Linked DNA regions of Homo sapiens. The protein of the gene in region 2 purifies or fractionates together with the protein of the main gene of each other region. This does not show direct contact. Each region holds a gene or a part of one and is shown on either strand. Other genes may lie near its edges.

The links.
Region 1: the proteins of ENOPH1 (region 2) and TOR2A purify together in Homo sapiens (affinity purification with mass spectrometry, with the first as the bait; one large-scale study listed by BioGRID). This does not show direct contact.
Region 3: the proteins of ENOPH1 (region 2) and CBS fractionate together in Homo sapiens (co-fractionation; one large-scale study listed by BioGRID). This does not show direct contact.

What each region holds. Positions count from the first base shown.
Region 1 is NC_000009.12:127,732,495-127,736,496, reverse strand, and holds the start of TOR2A (prosalusin isoform a precursor), read left to right. Parts: upstream 1-1,202; 5' UTR 1,203-1,226; coding exon 1,227-1,377; intron 1,378-1,932; coding exon 1,933-2,198; intron 2,199-2,936; coding exon 2,937-3,112; coding exon of another isoform or gene 3,113-3,281; exon of another isoform or gene 3,282-3,723; coding exon of another isoform or gene 3,724-3,805; coding exon 3,806-3,933; exon of another isoform or gene 3,934-4,002. UniProt on the Homo sapiens protein: Salusins -alpha and -beta may be endocrine and/or paracrine factors able to increase intracellular calcium concentrations and induce cell mitogenesis. Salusins may also be potent hypotensive peptides.
Region 2 is NC_000004.12:82,450,952-82,454,666, forward strand, and holds part of ENOPH1 (enolase-phosphatase E1), read left to right. Parts: intron 1-91; coding exon 92-294; intron 295-3,715. UniProt on the Homo sapiens protein: Bifunctional enzyme that catalyzes the enolization of 2,3-diketo-5-methylthiopentyl-1-phosphate (DK-MTP-1-P) into the intermediate 2-hydroxy-3-keto-5-methylthiopentenyl-1-phosphate (HK-MTPenyl-1-P), which is then dephosphorylated to form the acireductone 1,2-dihydroxy-3-keto-5-methylthiopentene (DHK-MTPene).
Region 3 is NC_000021.9:43,065,828-43,069,542, forward strand, and holds part of CBS (cystathionine beta-synthase), read right to left. Parts: intron 2,789-3,715; coding exon 2,682-2,788; intron 2,578-2,681; exon of another isoform or gene 2,230-2,577; coding exon of another isoform or gene 1,951-2,229; exon of another isoform or gene 807-1,950; coding exon of another isoform or gene 698-806; intron 551-697; coding exon 416-550; intron 1-415. UniProt on the Homo sapiens protein: Hydro-lyase catalyzing the first step of the transsulfuration pathway, where the hydroxyl group of L-serine is displaced by L-homocysteine in a beta-replacement reaction to form L-cystathionine, the precursor of L-cysteine.

The DNA.
Region 1 (4,002 bases), on a different chromosome or scaffold from region 2:
TCCTGCCTTAGCCTCCAGAGTAGCCAGGATTACGGGAGCCTGCCACCACGCCCGGCTAATTTTCGTATTTGTAGTAGAGACGGGGTTTCGCCATGTTGATTCACGCGCCTCGGCCTCCCAAAGTGCTGGGATTACAGGCATGAGCCACCGCACCTGGCCGGAAATACTTATTTCTTTTTCAGGCTCTGATATTTGGCCCCAGAAGTCGTGTGTGTGTGTGTGTGTGTGTGTGTGTGTGACTATGTGTTGAGGTTGGTAGGGACAGGGTCTTTGAGGTGGGCCATGAAGGCTGTTGTCTTGGTTCCCTTACTCCAGTGGGTGGGGGAGGTGGGCAACGTGGATCAAAACGAATCCAGGCCAAGCTGGAGGCCTAGGGAGCCTGCGCGCTGAACCTCAAACGTCTGGAGTCCTTTGCCTTCTGAATCCTTTGACCAAGAGAGGCTGATAACATGCAACCACGCACTACGGCTCTGGTTGCAGCCAGACTTGGGTTTAGTTCTATTGTTTACCAGCTGCGTGACATTGGGTAAGAGGCTTAACCTCTTCGGTCCCAAATTCCTCCTTATTAAGATGGGGACAACAACAGAACCCATCTCCCAGGACTGATACCAAGCATTTGGCCACAGTTGCTGCTAGGTGAGGGACAGTCCTGTTTAATACACAACGGAATGTTGATGATCATGTATTGACCACTTTCTGAGCCAGACAATTTGTGTGCCTTTATCTCATTGGAACACCACCATTTCTCTGGATAGCAGATACTATTACCATATTATAAGGTATATAGGCACTTAGCACTAATGGCACAGAGTAAGTGCTCACCAAAAGCTGTTAGTGAGGGCACTTTTGTCATATAGAAGAAAAAAGGAGCATGGAAAAGGCGCTTTGCAAGGTGTAAGGTTCCGCACAAGTTTTTGCTGTAATTGTTACGTCGCCCTTTGTGGTCGTGATCCTTTATTTATTCTTTCTGAGCCACTACGATGGTCCCCTAGTTACCGTGGCCATGGAAACGCGGCCCGCCGTCCCGGATTGGACGGTTCGCGGGTTCCCCCTGGAGGCCACCTTCTGGTCCTGCTGCGGAACGACGGGCGGGCCTTGGAGGCGGGGAGAGGAGCGTCGGGAGTTGTAGGCGATGGGCGTGGCTGCTGCGGAGCGGTGCACGCCGGGAGTTGCAGTTCCCGGGCGAGGCAGTTGACTGCCCCACAACGAGCTCGGGCCTCACCCGGATGGCGGCTGCGACGCGCGGCTGCCGGCCCTGGGGCTCGCTCCTCGGGCTGCTCGGGCTGGTCTCGGCCGCGGCCGCCGCCTGGGACCTGGCTTCCCTGCGCTGCACCTTGGGCGCCTTTTGCGAATGCGACTTCCGGCCCGACTTGCCGGGTGAGGCGCCAGGGAGCCCGGAGCGAGGGGCGGGCGGACGCGGGCAGACGCGGGAGCGCTGGGAGCCCTGGGAGCCCGGCTGGCGCCGGCCAGAGAAGCTGAGGACCCAGAGGGTGGGACCGAGGGGCGGGGCCCGCAGACTTGGGAGGGTGGAGGGTACCCGTTGAGGTCCAGGAGGCCCTGCCAACCTGGAGAGAGGCCTCAGCCAGCAGAACCCTTGGTGGAAGTTCTTGGGCCTCCCCGGAATGGCCTGGCCGTCAAAGGAGAAGTGCAGTGCGCCTTGGGGATGGGCGGGGTCTGCGGCTGACCCCGTTGACAGCTCGCATTTAGAGCTGAGTGCAATCTAGAGGACCGCCTGGTGGGGGCGCTGCCGAGCTGAATCAGGCCCGAAGGTGGCTCTTTTCCGCCACAGACCCCAAGGTTTGCGTGCCATGTGCATAGGCAGCTTGGACAAACGTAAGGACACAGGAGTCCCAGACCAGGTTCCAGACATGATGTTCTCCTTGAACCTCTGCCTCGGTGGGATGTGTCCTCACCATCCTCCTGTGGCCCTAGGTCTGGAGTGTGACCTGGCTCAGCACCTGGCCGGCCAGCATCTGGCCAAGGCGCTGGTGGTGAAGGCGCTGAAGGCCTTTGTGCGGGACCCAGCCCCCACCAAGCCGCTGGTCCTCTCCCTGCACGGCTGGACCGGCACCGGCAAATCCTATGTCAGCTCCCTGCTGGCGCACTACCTCTTCCAGGGCGGCCTCCGCAGCCCCCGCGTGCACCACTTTTCTCCCGTCCTCCACTTCCCCCACCCCAGCCACATCGAGCGCTACAAGGTAGGCTGGATGCGTCCTTGACCACTGTTCTCACCATGGGGTGCCACCCTAGGGAGTAAGTCCTGAGCCCAGACAGGGGAGTCACCTGCTCCAGGCCACACACGGCTGCAGCCCCAGCCCTCAGGACCCATCCTGCACAGAACTTGGGAAGGTGTCATTCTACCTGGCAGGGAGTACTTTGATTCCTTGGGGCAGTAAGGAACCCTGGCAGTACCTACATGCCAGGGTTGTTGTGAGGGACATGAGATTATACCATTGCAGATATCATTTATGGAGCACCTATGTTTGTCAGATAATCTGCACTGTTGTCTTGCTGGAAATCAGCCCCAATTTGTGGCTCAGAGGAAGCATCAGGAAATATTGGCTCTTACTACTACTGTTGTTGATTGCAGGGTACCCACCAGGCTGATCAGTTTCAGCCGTCAACACTGCTGTGTAGTTTCAGGGAGCAGGAAGGAGCCTTCCCCTTTTATAGAAAGCAGCAAGTGTCGTGGAAGGAGCTCTGAACAGGGAAGTGGGAGGCTTGGGTTTGAGTCCCTGTTCTGACTGGCTGTGTGACTTTGGGCAAGTCTCTGCCCCAATCTGGGATACAGTTTCACCATCAGTCTCACTAAGAGGTTGGTGCTCTCTGGAAGACCACATCCTTCCCTAGAAAGGAGATTAGTTTTGGTTTGGGAAGAGGTCTGGTGTTGGGGGAGTTTCTCCAGCTCCCCTGGAACTCCTGTCTCTCCCCTACAGAAGGATCTGAAGAGCTGGGTCCAAGGGAACCTCACTGCCTGTGGCCGCTCCCTCTTCCTCTTCGATGAGATGGACAAGATGCCCCCAGGCCTGATGGAAGTCCTGCGGCCTTTCCTGGGCTCCTCCTGGGTGGTATACGGGACCAATTACCGCAAAGCCATCTTCATCTTCATCAGGTGGGGCCCGGCTTTGCAGTGGGCACAGTGGGGGGGCCACTTCTCAGAGGTTCAGCTCTACAGCCTTAGCCTGTGCTCCCAGCAGAATCCAGTTCCCCATGGGCTTAGCTGGGCTTTCCCAGTGCCCTCCGCCACTCTCAGAGATGACATTGTCATTCCGCCTGGTTGATTTCCCTTTGGACATTCTCAGCAAATTCTGGGCTCAGTCTTTTTGATCGCCACTTCTTTGTGGAAGCCCTGCCAGGTCAAGAAGTTTTCCCTCTTTTGTGGTGAGGAGGACACAGGCCTGGGAAAAATAGGAACAGAGTTCTTGTCCTTTAGTCCCAGCTCTCAGAATCCTCGCTGTGTTTCCTCAGGCAGCATGGCTCCGCCTCTCTGAGCCTCTGTCTCTGCTTCTGAACAGCGGGGCCAATAATGATGCCCCGATGCCTTCCTGGAAGTTCAGTGAGGGAAAGTCAGTTGAGGGACACAAAAGTGTTTTGTAAACTATAAAGTACGTGGCATGTGTAGGTGAATTACAGGGGCCATGGATGTGGACACCATGGAGGGGGAAGTGGAGCGTTTTCAGTGGAGTTGGCTCCTCCCCGCACTGAGCCATGTTCCTATGTCAGGTGGCAGCGGGGAAGCGAGGGTCCAATCCTGCCCTGCGCTAGTCCTCATCTGAGTCTCAGCCTGGGTCCCCCATGGTTTTAGCAACACGGGTGGCAAGCAGATCAACCAGGTGGCATTGGAGGCGTGGCGCAGCCGGCGGGACCGCGAGGAGATCCTCCTGCAGGAGCTGGAGCCGGTCATCTCCCGCGCGGTGCTGGACAACCCGCACCGTGAGTCTGGCTCAGCAGCCCCCTCCCGGGCAGCTTCACCCCACACCCAGGGGCCAGGCTCTCCCGGGG
Region 2 (3,715 bases):
AAAGTTGTTCTGCTGGGTTTTTGGGTCTCGTTTTAAATGACTGTTTTTTGAATAAGCAAAAAACAAACATCATGTTGTTTCTGACTTAAAGGCTGAAGAGGACGCCCACCTGGATGGGGCTGTTCCTATCCCTGCAGCATCTGGGAATGGAGTGGATGATCTGCAACAGATGATCCAGGCCGTGGTAGATAATGTGTGCTGGCAGATGTCCCTGGATCGAAAGACCACTGCACTCAAACAGCTGCAGGGCCACATGTGGAGGGCGGCATTCACAGCTGGGCGCATGAAAGCAGAGTATGTGCTTGAGTCAGCCTAAACATTTCACCAGTCCCAAATCCAAATATGTTTTTTCACCAGTCCTCTCTTTCCAGCGTAAGTCACAAGACTGGTAAAACAGATAAAAATCCACACTCTTTTTAGTCTAACAAGTGAGCTTTGTTTCATTTTTTCAAAACTTGGCTAAAATATTTCAGCTGACTAGATTACCCGGACCTGCCAGTCTGGTCTTGTGGGTTGATTGAAGGACTTGTCAAAGTCTCCGTTTAAAATAGCTTCCTAGAAAATGGTGACTTCCTTGAACTAAGTCATATTTGATTCTTAGCACATGAGTGACAGCTCCGTTGGGCTGCTTGCCTGGACTGTTAATTACCTGCTTTTTGCTCTATGAGACATAGGAAATTTTGTGCCCCACCGTGTTGAGGTTACTCAGAGGATGTCCGCACTACCACGTTCTTCTTTGCTCTTTTGAGCAACTTCCACAGATTCTTTGAGTCTTGGTTATGGAGTTCCTAATAGCACTCCTGCCTGAGGAGACTTTTGAGTATTATACTTACTGAGAAATTCTTGATTGATTCAGACAGGGTCCTACTCTGTTGGCTGGAGTGCAGTGGCATGATCATGGCTCACTGCAGCCTTGACCTCCCCTAGTTCAGGTGATCCTCCCACCTCAGCCTACCGAGTAGCTGGGACTAGGCATGTGCCACCATGCCCAGCTAGTTTTTGTATTTTTAGTACAGATGGGGTTCTACCATGTTGCCCAGGCTAGTCTCAAACTTCTGGGCTTGAGCGATCTGCCTGCCTTGGACTCCCAAAATGCTGGGGTTACAGGCGTAAGTCACAATACCTGGCCTATTTTTTTTTTTTTAGAGCTGGGGTCTTGCTCTGTGATCCACACTGGAGTGCAGTGGTGCCATCATAGCTCACTGTAGCCTTCAAGTGAACCTCCCGCCTCAGCCTCCTCATTAGCTGGGACCACAGGCACGCACCACCACACCTGGCTATTCAAAAAACATTTTTGTAGAGGTGTGGTCTTGCTATGTTGTCCATACCATATTGCTGATAAATTCTTTTCGTTTGTTTGTTTCTGTTTTTGCTTTGAGACCGAGTCTTGCTCTTTGCCCAGGCTGGAGTGCAGTGGCGCAATCTCAGCTCACTGCAACTTCTACCTCCTGGGTTCAAGCGATTCTCCTGCCTCAGCCTCTGGAGTAGCCGCCTGCCACTATGCTAATTTTTGTATTTTTAGTAGACATGGGGTTTCACCATATTGGCCAGGCTGGTCTTGAACTCCTGACCTCAAGTGGTCCACCCCATCTCAGCCTCCCAAACTGCTAGGATTACAGGTATGAGCCACCCCTCCCGGCCTATTTTTGTTTTTGGAGATAGTCTCACTCTGTTGTCCAGGATGGAGTGCATTCACACAATCTTAGCTCACTGCAACCTCCGCCCTCTGGGTTCAAGCAATTCTTGTACCTCAGCCTCCCAAACAGCGGGGACTACAGGTGCGTGCCACCACACCTGGCTAATTTTTTGTATTTTAGTAGAGACAGGGTTTTATCATGTTGTCCAGGCTGGTCTTAAGCTCCTGAGCTCAGGGCAGTCCACCTACCTTGGCCTCCCAAAGTGCTAGGATTACAGGCGTGAGCCACTGTGCCAGGCCTGCTGAGAAATTCTTTTTTTTTTTTTTTTTTTGAGACGGAGTCTTGCTCTGTCACCCAGGCTGGAGTGCAGTGGCGTGATCTCAGCTCGCTGCAAGCTCCGCCTCCTGGGTTCACGCCATTCTCCTGCCTCAGCCTCCCGAGTAGCTGGGACTACAGGCGTGTGCCACCACGCCCGGCTAATTTTTTGTATTTTTAGTAGAGACAGTGTTTCACCGTGTTAGCCAGGATGCTCTCGATCTCCTGACCTTGTGATCCGCCCCCCCTTGGCCTCCCAAAGTGCTGGGATTACAGGTGTGAGCCACTGCACCTGGGTGTGAAATTCTTAAGGATTTTAGGCCATTGCCTGCTGTAAACCCTAGGATCCAAGATTGTTTCCAGCTGCATATATTTCTTTTGTGTTTCTGTCAAATGAGATGTTGTTTCTTTATTTATGTACTTTACGAGGAGCTTCTACCTTTTAAAGGATGGACTGGAATTTCAGGATATGCCAGTGATCTGGGAATATCAGCCAGGTTCACTTTGTAAAGCACTCAAAAAAGTGGAGACAGGAGACTGTGCACCCGGTAGTTAGCCCATACTTCTCTTGGTCTTGGTTCCTTAATTATACAACTAACTGCTGAAGACAGGAAAAATCCTGTCTCCATGAGTGCAAACTAGTACTCAGAATAACATACTTACATGTGTACTGGTTTTGAATACGTTGATCTCTTTCCTTCAATTAGTGCAACATGTTAAGCATGTTAATACATATAAAGCGGAAGACTCCACTGACATTTTCCAGGTAATCTTTTAGAGATGACTGGTTCTACAACCCAAGTTCTTTGTGCTTCTCTTTTCACCTTTCTCCTGTGATGTTAATTTCCTCCATGACTATGGAAAACACTAGAATTGGTAAGAGAGACTGAGTGTCAGAAGTCAGAAAAAGACATCTTTTGCTGACTGGTTAATGTGAGTTGGTACAAGTCTCAACTGACTTGTTATGTAATTTTTTCCCCATATAATAAAACATTGTTTTCTTAGTTCTCAAAAAATGCAGGCCGGGTGCAGTGGCTCATGCCTGTAATCCCAGCACTTTGGGAGGCTGAAGTGGGGGGATCACTTGAGTCCAGGAGTTTGAGACCAGCCTGGGTGACATGGCAAAGCACCATCTCTACAAAAAATTAAAAAAAAAAAAAAAAAGCTGGGGGTGGTAGCACATGCTTGTAGTCCCAACTACCTGGGAGGCTGAGGTGGGAGGATCACTCGAGCCCAGGAGGTAGAGGTTGCAGTGAGCTGAGATCATGCCACTGCACTCCAGCCTAGGCAACAGAGCAAGACCCTGTCTCAAAAAAAAGTAATTCCATTTTCTAGCTAATCATAAGTTTATAGCTTTGAGCCTTCAAACTTTGTTTTGATTATTTTGGGTGCAGATCTTTCTAAAAGCATTTCCATGCTTTCTTAAAGCACAGTGGACATAATTTAACCTTTTCTTGTCATGAAGAACATCAAAGATTATATTATATCATTGCTGTTGTTTGCTTTTTTGAGTTCTTCGGGAATTTAAAAAACACTTTCCCATTTCATCCTTTTATCTGTAGTCCCTTTTTACTGTCACTAGTGGCTGTCTGTTCAAAACTATCCTCCTTTCCACATAGATTGTTGCTTCTAATCTGCTGTGAGCCTGGAACTTGGGCAGTATGTTTATTAGAACTGCAGGAGTTTGTAGTCTCAGGGAGCTGCTTCTCAGGTTACCATGTGGGCACAAAGAGAGAAACATATGGCATCTGTTTTGACAGGTT
Region 3 (3,715 bases), on a different chromosome or scaffold from region 2:
AATTGCCCAACATGGCTGCTTCTGCCTTCAAGTGCAGGGGGAGAGAGGCTGCCAGAGGCAGAAATAAAAGGTACACGTCAAGGAGGAGGAGGCAGCGGCGCAGGACAGGAGATCTGGTTCCTCCAGGCCCAGCCGGGTACACAGGCACAGGAAGAGCAGACTCCGGGTGCTCGTCTTGTGTGCCAGGCACTGCCAGGTGCCATCGCCCCGAGAGCATCGGCACTGGCCCCGAATGCTGGTCAAAGGAAGCTAGGTTGGGACACAGGCCGGCAGCGGGTGCAAGATGCCAGGGAGCAGGCGGCCAGGCGGGCCAGCACATGCGGCTGCAGCTCAGCCATCCCCCCCGGGTCCCGGCAGGCTCGGCATGGGTAGGGGACAGCCAGCCCTGGCCACCCCCTCTGGGCCTGGCACCCACCGGTGTTCCCGGATGTCGGCTCGATAATCGTGTCCCCGGGCTTCAGCGTCCCGTCGCGCTCAGCATCCTCAATCATCCGCAGGCTGATGCGGTCCTTCACGCTCCCGCCCGCGTTGAAGAACTCACACTTGGCCACTGGGAGGCAGAGATGAATCACAGAGGGGACCCCCTGACCACCCCCCCATTGATTCCTGCTCACCCCCCCATTACCTGATACACCCCAGGGTGGGGGACGGGCTTGGGGGTCTGTGGGTTCTGAAAAATTGCCACCTCTCCACTCACCTCCCCTACACCTGCACCTGGGCACTAGCCTATCAGAGCTTCTCCCCCTGCAGCCCATCCTACCGGTCCTGCAGGGCGCTGAGCAACTCTGTGGGAACCAGAGAGGCATAAGCAGCCCTCACTGGGGGGCGCCGCAGAAAACCCCGTCCCCCCACCCACGAGCTGGGCTTGTGGCGGGCAGGCGCCTGGATTTGGGTCCCCTACGCCCCTATGCCCAGCCATACCCAGCGGCCCCTGCCAAAGCAGCTTGATGTCCTGAAGCCACAGCACTGGCTTCCCCATCGGATGGGGACTCGCATACTCTCCCTACAGCCTCCCATTGTCCTCCTCCCCCTGTGGGGCGTCACCTGCCCGGGGAAGGGCTCCCTGCGCGGTTCCCGCACAAGGCCAAGGCCTTCACTTGCACTTCCTTCCTTACTGCAAGTCCTCTCTCCCTCTCCAGCTCTTAAAAATATTTAGTTTTTAAGAGCGAGAGACTGGGCTGCATGAAATGTGATTTGAGGGACCTGGGACCAGCCTGCAGCACCTCAAAATTTCTGAAAGCAACCACCAGACAGGTGTTGCCCCTAGAACCAGGACGAGGCGCTGTGTGTGGTGGGGAGGACTCTCGGGGTCTGGCCCTCTACAGGCCTGCATTCTCGGACCCCTCTGGGTCCCATACTGTGAAACCCTCAGTTAGATCATTCTCACTAGCGCCTGGGGGCCAGCTCCGAAGCAGAAATCAGAGCTGGTGGCCTCCGGCAAGCCACGTGACCAACCTGACCCTCGGTGTGTCTGTCTGTAAAACGGGCATTCCAAAACCTACTTCAAGGGCAACCACCAAGTTTAGACGTCATCCTGTACGGAGCACAGTGAGCCAGCCACGCGTGCTGCGTACGAGTTAAGGGTCCCTATTGTCTGACAAATGAGCACAGAGCCGGCCCTGCTGCCTTGGGGGTCTCTGTGAAGGGGGCTGCTCTGCTGCAGCTCCGAGATCTCCTTCCCTAGAGGGGGGCAGAGGAGGGCCAGGCTCCCACGAGGCCCCTCCTGTGAATCGGCGATCGGTTCCCAACGCACCGACCCCTGACTTCCTTCCCCCAGCGCCTGCCCCAGCTCTCACAGGTCCCCCGGCTGGGACATTAGAGCATCTCAGGATGAAAAAGTCCCAAGCCATGTTACTGGTTCCCTCTCCTTCCCACTCGAACTCCACCCCCTCCATCTGGCCCTGTCGCGGGGTTCTCCGCGGCACCCTTCCTGCCTCCCTCCGAACTCACTTGGCCTTGGTCATCTGAAATACGAAATTCCGTCCCCGCCTTGTCCCCAAGGCCTCTGCACCCACAGCTTTCTCTGTGACGATGCTGAGGTCTACCAGGGCTCTGCGCTCTTGGTGAAGAGCGACCCTTAGGAATTCCCTCCACGTTCTTGAGCCTGGAAACTGCGTCCTGCAAAGAAATGCCCTTCCCCGGAGGCCTCAGACCACACCTCAGGTGACCCCCTGCGCACCCAGGACGAGGCCAGCCACAGACCCTCCAAATTCCCATTCTCTGTCTCATAAATGATGAGCTGAACTATCTGTCCCCACGAAGCTGGCAAGACAGAGGTAACCGCTCCCTGGACAGCGGGTGGCTCACAGCACGTGCTAGGACCCGTCCACTGCTCCTTAGCAGGCATGACGCTAACCCTCCCCACCTGCTTGCTTCTGCCTTTGACCCTCACCCGGCCCTTCACACCCTCGCTGCTTCCACTCCGGCCTCAGTTCAAAGGTCACCTGTTCGTTCCCTGGTCCATCTGCTGGGGAGTCACTTTGGTCACCCTCTGACACAATGCCCTGTTGTGTGTTTTTCCCAAACTTAAGCTGATATGTTCTTGGCCACTCATTAACCAGCGAGTTTTCTGATCCCAGGGCCTTGCCTAAGGGATCCATCCCAGGACCCCCCAGGACCCCCCAGGCCCACGGAGCCCAGTGTAGATGGAGGAAGCCCCTCTCCAAAGCCAGGGCACTCACAGAGCTCACACTTCAGGCCGAACTTCTTCCCAATCTTGTTGATTCTGACCATAGGGGTGTCCCCGATTTTCTTCAGAATATCTGGCAAGATTTTTGGAGATTTTGCCCTGAAACAGAGGAGTCCACAATTATTCAGGAAAAAAAAAAAAAATAGTACCAGCCCTGGCAGACATTGTCTTACACAAATCAACACTCGAAGAACTGGAAAAAAAAAAAAAAAAAAAAAAAAAGAACTGGCTTTATCTGGGTGGTGGTTACACAAATCTGTACACAGATACACCTAACACACATCCCACACACACGCCTGAAACACACATACACACACATGCTTAGACATACAAATCTATAAAAAGCAAATCATGCCTGTGGTTTATTTGCACCAATGCCAGCTTCCCAGGTTTGAAAATGAACCTACAGTCGTGGCAGATGTTGTTAGTGGGAAGCTGGGAGAAGGGTACAAAGGATCTATTATTTTTGCCACTTATTGTGAGTAGTAAATTATTTCCAAATAAAAAAGTTAAAATAAGCAAATACTGACTCCAAAACAAAGGTTTAGGTCCACCTTTTCAGAAAGGCTTTACTGGAGATGACATTTCCTTTCATCTCTCAGCATGTGACCATAGGAAGCAAAAAAGTGTCAGGGCAGAGACTCCTTAGACCAGGGACAATGGCTGCAAAGCGCAGGCGGGATGTCTAGCCCTGCACAGAAAATGTCAGGCACGTGGCAGACTCAGAGCCCCGGCAGAGGCGCTGTCGGCCAGGCTCGTGATGCCCTGCCCTGCAGCATCTGGCTGTGTAAACCCTCAAACCCTGGTCCAGGTGGTTTCCTAAATGGCCCTCATGCCCCTGCCATCCTCCCCCAGGGAGATGCTGATGACACCCCCTATCTATCTGCACCAAGCTCACCACATACTCATCTGGGAACACGCATGGCTTACAGCGGTCTCCAGACCCGCAACCCCTCCCTGGGCCTTGCAGCTCCGATGACACCCCGTGGCTAACCCTGGGCCCCCTCTTCAGCACAGTCACCTGCT